Regions from separate parts of the Homo sapiens genome. Here region 2 is linked to region 1. Evidence: fine-mapped expression QTL. A gene starts in region 1. The other region holds a variant in brackets. All regions are shown on one strand. Distances are from middle to middle.

Region 1 (4,389 bases):
AGGCTGAAGAGAGATGCAAGGGCAAGCTCTGGAAGAGAACAATTTTTTTTTAATAAGGGGGGTGAGGAGGGCATCTATTGGAGAACACAAAAACCCTCTATACTTAGCAAACTAAAATTACCTTCTTATTCCTCATAAAAACTATAATTTAATGAATGTTATGTGTAGGGTGGCTGGGCATGGTGGCTCACACCCATAATTGCAGCACTCTGGGAGGCTGAGGCGAGTGGATCACCTGAGGTCGGGAGTTTGAGACCAGCCTGGCCAACATAGTGAAACCCCATCTCTACTAAAAATATAAAAATTAGCCAGGTGTGGTGACGCACACCTGTAGTCTCAGCTACTTGGGAGGCTGAGGCAGGAGAATTGCTTGAACCTGGGAGGTGGAGGTTGCAGTGAGCTGAGATTGTGCCACTGTACTCCAGCCTGGGTGACAGAGTGAGACTCCTTCTCAAAAAAAAAAAAAATTATGTGTAGGTAATTTACTAGTGAGTTTCAAAATAGCACTAATCCTAGCAACCCTGTACAATAAATATTTTCACCTTCATTTTAAATATAAACCAACATTATTCAGAAGCCAAGTGACTCTTACAAGAGTAGAGAGTTAGTTAGTGAAGCCATGATTCTAACTGAGGTCTGCTGATTGCAAATCCCTTGCTCTCCCAACTTGGCACACTATCTCCCTGTGAAAGACTTTAATGTGTATAGACTATGAAATTTACTTTAACATCCATAAAGACTCTTTATACCCAATGACTATGGAAGAGCAGACAAGAAGAGAGGAAAGAATGTGAAAACTGAGGAAGGCATCAATGGAGCAGAAATCTGGGCTGGTCTTGAAAAGTAAAAAGGTAGAGACACAGAAAGCGCATTTCAGGAGAGTAATAAAAACAAATCTCACTAACCTCTAAACTTATTTTTCTTCACAGAACTCATAATTACCTGAAGTGTTATTAATCTGATTGTCTAACAGAATGTTCCTTTCATAATAGCAGGGATTTACCTTGCTCCCTTTCTGCTGTATTCCCAGTTTTTACAACCCAGCAGGCAGTCAAATACTTGTTGAATAAGGAAATGTATACTAAGCTGAATTAAACCTGAAGGCAGTTTTTTATTGGTAAATGTAAGTTACAGTGAAAATTACTTACTTACCAATATACCAGAGGGGCCAGTATGTCACATTGTAGTATGAACTAATCAATTTTCCAGTCCTGAAAAAAAATTAGAAAGGCTTTCCAGTGAACCTAAAAACACCAAAAATCAAAAACAAACACAAAAACCTGTGGAACCAGCCACTGGCTTCTTAAAGTTTCACTTTTTTTGGACTGATTCACTTACATTTCAGTATATATCATTCCAGCCATAGATACATTTAGGAGTCCCCAGGCTAAGACCACTTTCCTAGCCTCTGTTTCTTTTCTCATCTTGATGGTTCTGTCAATAAGGGAAGCACTAGGGTGTGCCTCCCCCTGCATCTATGAAAAAACAAAAAGCACAGGAATTAACCAGAAGAAACTATTGCTCCATTTAAAAACCAAATTTTGCATCCCTTATAAAGGTAACTGAAACCGCATATACCTTCTCTCATCTTTAAAATGTTTTATCAAAACTTCTTCCATTTTAATATCAGTATATGAAAAGGGAACCCAAAATTATATGTAACTTAATTGGCATCACAGTGTAATCAACAGAGAAGTGGCTGGTTATTTATCTATTTATTTGTTTTGAGACGGAGTCTTGCTGTCTCCCAGGCTAGAATGCAGTGGCGCGATCTCGACTCACTGCAACCTCCGCCTCCCGGGTTCAAGCGATTCTCCTGCCTCAGACTCCCGAGTAGCTGGGATTACAGACGCCCGCCACCGCGTCCGACTGATTTTTGTATTTTTAGTAGAGACGGGATTTCAACATTTTGGCCAGGCTGGTCTCGAACTCCTGACCTTGTGATCCACCCGCCTCGGCCTCCCAAAGTGTTGGGATTACAGGCGTGAGCCACCGCGCCCAGCCGTGGCTGGTTATTTAAGAACAATTTAATACTTCCAATACATAAAAATGTCTTATTTTGTAATTTAAGGGTTATGTCTAGAAATACTTTGTATTTTGTCTTTGGGGTATGTTACACGGACTAGGCAAAAGGCTAACTTCAGAAACTCAAAATGTCAAGTTTTGGGAGACTATATTCCATATCTGCTGTAAGTCATAAAGACTGTTGTACATCCTCATGCAGACGCCATTACTATCTCAACAACTCTGCACTTGGACAGCTGTACTCCAGGGCTCTCCCTTTTGTGTGTGGATAAAGGACAAGGATCCAAGTTTTAGAAGGGCACGTACTTATGATGGGGTGGTGAGCGGAGTAAGAGGGAGAGAGGGGAAAACGTGCATTGTTTTGGTCCACATTTGGGATTTATAATTCCTCCTTTCTTCAGCTAGGCTCAACTCTTACAGACCGTGCAAAACTTGTTCCAGCGACAAGCAGTCGTATCCCACAGAGGACAGAGCAATAGCTTTCGCGCCACTCAGCCCCCGCGTCCCAATTTCCCAGTCCAGAGCTTCCCTCCCCGGCTCCTGGGCACGAACTTCAGCAACCCTATTGCTTCTTTCTTCCCTTCCCCTAGAGAGGCGGAACGCCTAGCCACATCCCCCTTGGCTGAACCCAGGACAGATCAGCAGGCGCGGAACTCCCACAACCCGCGTAGATTCCAAGACAGGAAGCACAAACACGACCCCGAAAACGCACCATGTCCTCTGGCCGGAAAACGCAGGCTCGCGCCACTCTCTCTGGGCATGCGCAAAGCCAAGCTCAAGCGGGAGGCCACCGGCAAGCGGCTCTAAAGTTACCGGAAGAACTAGGTAGTCTCTTCTCGCGAGAAAGGGAGGGGTCGCAGGCCCAGGCGCTCGGAGCGTTACCAGGGAAACAGGTCTCGGTTTTGCGGCTCCCACTCAGCTGCGGGAGAAAGCTAAGCAGCAAAATTCAGACCAGGCTCTGAACCCGCAGTAAAAAGTAATAATTGTAACAAGCTGAATTTTGTATCTATTAATATAATTTTAGCTTCCCTAGGGCATTTATGGACTCACATGTGTAAACTGATTAAGTAGGGCGGCTCACCGTAGGATAGAGTGGCGTGATAAAGTGGCCAGACACCATCAGTGACAAAGCATTTCTTTCCCCTGTGTTAAAGTATCTATGTCAAGAGTCCTGACCCCATGTAATTTTTTTTTTGGTAGAGACAGGGTTTCGCCATGTTGGCCAGTCTGGTCTCGATTTCCTAACCTCAAGGGATCCGCCCGCCTCAGCCTCCCAAACGCCTGCTGGCCTCCCACCGCCTTTTGGGATTACAGGCGTGGCCCACCGCGCCCGGCCTAAATTCTTAATCTGTTTAATAGGGTGCAGCAATAACAAGCACACCCAAAATTTGTTTTATTGAAGTTGCTAGTGGTTTTGAGGTTAAAAATAATAACACATTTTCGTATGTATTTTTTGGAAGAGCTGCTCATCCTGAGGAAAAGGTTGAGCTTTGTTTTATTTAGCACAAATACCTACAAGTGTGCCGCTGAGCCAGGCGCACGGATATAGAAAATAAGACCTTCCTGGTTATTACCCAGAGGAGCTCAACCCCAGCGGAGGCCCACAGATGCATTTCGGTGGCAGGTGAGGTGGATGCAGTGCTCCCCAAGGAGGCGCATCCAGCCCAGCCCCAGCTCTCGCGAGCTTCCTGGAGGAGATGACGCGTTAGAGTCCACAGCCAGAAACCCAGGGCCTGGGGACTTGTTCTGAAGTGTGCCTCCTAATAAAAACATTAAGCCATGCCACAGTAAGCTAGTGGATTACATCATGTATGTCCAATGGCCAAAGTTTTTCCTAAAATGATCCTAAGATTAATACCACGTGGTATTGTATATTAATGAAAATCGGCAGGTATGCTGTGCTCTTGAAGAGCTGTTAAGTTTTATCATTTTTAGATTGCTTTAGCAGCAATGTTGTTTTGCTCTAGTTTTAGATTTAGAGATGAACTAACTGGAAAATTGTTCAAAGTGAAAGGGCTCAAGGTGCAATCAAAATTAGAATACCGGCCGGGCGCGGTGGCTCACGCCTGTAATCCCAACACTTTGGGAGGCCGAGGCGGGCGGATCACGAGGTCAGGAGATGGAGACCAGCCTGGCCAAGACGCTGAAACCCTGTCTCTACTAAAAAGACAAAAAATTAGTAGGGCGTGGTGGCATGCGCCTGTAATCCCAATTACTCTGGAGGCTGAGGCAGGAGAATCACTTGAGCCTGGGAAGCCGAGGTTGCGGTGAGCCAAGATGGTGCCACTGCATTCCAGTCTGGGCGACAGAGTGAGACCCTGCTAAAAAAAAAAAAAAAAAAAATTAGAATACCGGTTTCCCACC
Region 2 (4,389 bases), 25 kb after region 1:
AAAAACAAAAGTCACTGCTCTAGAGTAGTTTTCTTTGTAGATTTTCCTGTATCATCTAGCAATACCACTAAATTAGTGAAGGCACTATCACTCCATGCTTTCCCAATTGTCTGCTAGGAATTAGTAAATCCTCACCCACACTATAGGATGGACCGTCTCAATTAGTGAAAAGCTTGAATTAAATTATACTACTTTAAAAGAACTTCAGGTTTATTATTTTCAAATACAAAAAGTGGAAGCAAGCTAACCAACTGTTGCCTGGTACACAGGGGTGGGTTTTGGCTTGGTGAATAGACAAGAGTTATTTGTAATTGACATTTCAAAGAAGCCTAAGAAACAGGCCAGCCTTTGTTTAAATCATAATTACCCTGTTTGTATGTAAAAGAATACTTCTAAAGCTTTTCAAAACAACTGGTTCTTTTAAGCAGATAATTATTCCCCTTCCAATCTTGTTTACACTACTATTCAGAACTTCAGTGAACTTTTTTTTTCATAGATAGTACAAAGGTTAACTTCAGCAAACCCTTCCTCAAATTATCACAAATTCCCAATTAGTGGATTCTAAACAGGGTTTCCTTGTAACAATATGCCGAAGACTTGCATGATGTGTTTTTTATTGCTTTGAATAACATCTGACAAGTTTCCAAGTACCAGGCCACCTGGATATTCTCTATCTGTCAGGAAAAGATAGAGGTCAAAGAGGTGGGTGGGAGGGTGGGGGAAATATAAATCAGGCCCATACATTCCTATACTATTAGAGGAAGACAAAAGGAAGAAAATGCTTTTTTCCCCCCCAAATATCTATTACATACCAACTGAATCTTAAATAATAGGCACTTTTTGGTGTAAAGAAGAGTTGCACTTACCATCTAAATTTAACAAAACCTCAGATGAAAATAGAAAGCTGACCTTTTTTGTATGTAGACTGGCAGTTATTGGAGAGGCCCAGGGAAGTTGGCAAGAGAAAGATGCATTATAAATAAATTATACTTGTCCTTTCTCGTTATTTCTTATTGCAAATTTCCACTCAGTGCACAAAGGGATAATGCATGAAATCCTTTTTTTAAACAAAAATTTTATGATCCTGAGCAATACTGTTTTCCAGTTCTTTCATCTTCTGAGCTCGGCCTTTTTCACAAGCTGTTCCTCAAGCCGCCTTATTGCAGGGGCCTGTTGTCTCTAATTGTCTTTGTTTATTAGGGCCCTCTGTCACCATGAAGTTTCACGTGTTCAAATCTTGATTTAGCAGTGAGAACACCAGGCTGAGAGCTAACTCTGCTACTAATTAGTGTAAATCACAAAAGGAGAAGTGGAGAGATAAAAACCAGGTCCTAGTGGAAGGGTCTACAGCCAGGGTTAGTAAGACTGACTGGCAGGTCAGAGGATTGAGGAAGAGACGAAAGGGCTTGGAGAAATGCCACTTAGGGTCAGCGTCTTTTTGTCTCTTTTCTCTGATTGTACCCCTTCAGATACAGAAAGGGTCTGAAGTAGCCTATGTTGATTCTTTTCCTTTCTTCCATTTTGTTCCATTGTTCCTGCTCTCTTACATGATTTACGGTTAAGTTCTGATTGGTCTAAGCCAAGCCTGGTGGTGCCATTCTCCTGGTCCATGAGTGGCTCAAGGGTGGGCATGTAATCTCATTCTGGGAAGGGAAGTTTGCTGGGGGGAGCATTCAGAGAAAAAAGTTTGTTCAGTCTTTCTTTAAAAAGACATGTGGAGAAGAGAAATAGTCCTTTTTCTTTTGGTGGTTGCTAGCAAGTCTGCACGTGATGACTGGAACTGTGTGACAGCCAGCTCGTGTCCATAGGGGCATTCGCCTGAGTATGACAGTGTGGAAATATGGAAAAGACTAGGTCCTGAGCTGCTGAATTAACAAATTCTGGAAACATCCTACTTTTAGATTTGTTGCTAGGCAAAATAATCCCTATTGTAAGTTGGTTTTTCTGTGACTTGCAGTTGATACAGGGTCTTAGTCATCTTCTTATGTTCTATAATTTCTAGAGCAGCTTCTTTTGCCTGGAAGGTGCTCTATGATGCCTAAATTGTTAAAGAAAAAAGTATGCGTGCTTCTTTGATGGGGGGGCCCATGGCTTTGCGTGTGTGGTGATTATGATCGTATTGAGAGGTGACAGCGTGCTGGCAGTCCTCAGAGCCCTCGCTTTCTCTCGGCACCTCCTCTGCCTGGGCTCCCACTTTGGCGGCATTTGAGGAGCCCTTCAGCCCACCACTGCCCTGTGGGAGCCCCTTTCTGGGCTGGCCACGGCTGGAGCCCACTCCCTCAACTTGCAGGTAGGTGTGGAGGGAGAGGCGCGAGCGGGAACCGGGGCTG[C/T]GTGCGGCGCTTGCAGGCCAGCTGGAGTTCCGGGTGGGCGTGGGCTTGGCGGGCCCTGCACTCGGAGCAGCCGGCCGGCCCTGCCGGCTCTGGGCAATGAGAGACTTAGCACCTGGGCCAGTGGCTGCGGAGGGTGTACTGGGTCCCCCAGCAGTGCCAGCCCACCGGTGCTGCGCTCGATTTCTCACCGAGCCTTAGCTGCCTCCCGGCGGGGCAGGGCTCGGGACCTGCAGCCCGCCATGCCTGAGCCTCCCACCCACTCCATGGTCTCCTGTGCAGCCCGAGCCTCCCCAACGAGCACCACCCCCTGCTCCACGGCGCCCAGTCCCATCGACCACCCAAGGGCTGAGGAGTGCGAGCGCACGGCGCGGGACTAGCAGGCAGCTCCACCTGCAGCCCCTGTGCGGGATCCACTAGGTGAAGCCAGCTGGGCTCCTGAGTCTGGTGGGGACGTGGAGAGTCTTTACGTCTAGCTCAGGGATTGTAAATACACCAATCAGCACCCTGTGTTTAGCTCAAGGTTTGTGAGTGCACCAATCAACACTCTGTATCTAGCTGCTCTGGTGGGGCTTTGGAGAACCTGTGTGTGGAAACTCTGTATCTAACTAATCTGATGGGGACGTGGAGAACCTTTGTATCTAGCTCAGGGATTGTAAACGCACCAATCAGTGCCCTGACAAAACAGGCCACTCGGCTCTACCAATCAGCAGGATGTGGGTGGGGCCAGATAAGACAATAAAAGCAGGCTGCCAGAGCCAGCAGTGGCAACACGCTTGGGTACCCTTCCACACTGTGGAAGTTTTGTTCTTTTGCTCTTTGTGATAAATCTTGCTACTGCTCACTCTTCGGATCCACACTGCTTTTATGAGCTGTAACACTCACCATGAAGATCTGCAGCTTCTGTCCTGAAGCCAGCGAGCCCATGAGCCCACCAGAAGGAACGAACAACTCCAGACGCGCTGCCTTGAGAGCTGTAACACTCATCGGGAAGGTCTGCAGCTTCACTCCTGAGACAGCGAGACCACGAACCCACCAGAAGGAAGAAACTCCTAACACATCCGAACATCAGAAGGAACAGACTCCAGACGTGCCACCTTAAGAGCTGTAACACTCACCACGAGGATCCGCGGCTTCATTCTTGAAGTCAGTGAGACCAAGAACCCACCAATTCCGGACACTGTATTAGTCCGTTCTCGCGCTGCTATTAAAGAAATACCTGAGACTGGGTAATTTATAAAGAAAAGAGGTTTAATTGGCTCACAGTTCTGCTGGCTATACAGGAAGCATGGCTGAGGAGGCCTCAGGAAACTTTCAATCATGGTGGAAGGCGAAGAGGAAGCAGGAACGTCTTACATGCCTGGAGCAGGAGAAAGAGAGTGAAGTGGGAGGTGCTACATACTTTTAAACAACCTGATCTTGTGAGAACTCACTGTCATGAGAACAGCAAGGAGGAAATACACCCCCACGATCCAATTGAAGTAGGATATTTCCCTGACTCCTTTGCAGGACTCATGAAGGGGGTGCCCTGTTTACTCAGCCCACAGCTCCCAACTCCTTGTGGAAGGGAGTGCATGGGTGAACGAGACAGGAACTGGAGAACATGAGCACTGGAGTCAGCTGGCTACTCTGGTGCCAGCAGGAGTGAACTCCACTCAGACCCACTGAATTCTACCCCTTGCTGGAGGGGGTGTGCAGGTGAATGGGTGCAGGAGCTGGGGCAAGTGCTTTGGGGGGCCAGTAGGAGCCAACTTCTTGCTGGTCCCATGGCAGCGTCTATGGGGGTGCTTGCGACCCCTGAAGACCCAGAAGGTGTGTTACAGTGCTCTTTTAGCTCTGCCATCCATGGATGGCTGAAGTGTTATCAACTCAGAGGGCCCTCTGCCTTTTTGCATGAGGCGGCTGCCTTCCGCCAGTGAGAATAAAGGGTCAGTGTGACAGCCTTTTACGTCCTCACTCTTGGCTCCTGAATTCTTGTCCAGCATCCAGGAGAAACGAGGTCACATGAACAAATTGAAGGATGGTAAATGTGGGGAATTTTACTGCTGATGAAAGTGACTCT

Evidence for each region. PIP is the estimated chance that this variant, and not a neighbour inherited with it, causes the effect. A credible set is the group of variants that fine-mapping cannot tell apart.
Region 2: its variant is the best candidate, but not a certain one, in a credible set for the expression of TMEM209 in lung (TOPMed, PIP 0.74).

The regions. Positions count from the first base shown.
Region 1 is chr7:130,202,636-130,207,024 of GRCh38, forward strand. It overlaps TMEM209 (transmembrane protein 209), which reads right to left and starts at 2,771. Exons shown (of 15, transcript NM_032842.4): 1 at 2,738-2,771; 2 at 1,339-1,475; 3 at 1,153-1,211; 4 at 1-28. The coding sequence starts at 2,740. It also overlaps a transcript of SSMEM1 not described here. RefSeq lists a silencer at 1,254-1,548 and enhancers at 2,210-3,009, 2,686-2,865, 2,926-3,035.
Region 2 is chr7:130,227,721-130,232,109 of GRCh38, forward strand. No RefSeq gene overlaps it. Among named protein-coding and RNA genes, the nearest start is that of SSMEM1, 22 kb to the left of the region's middle. The variant C/T (reference allele first, on the strand shown) is at 2,331.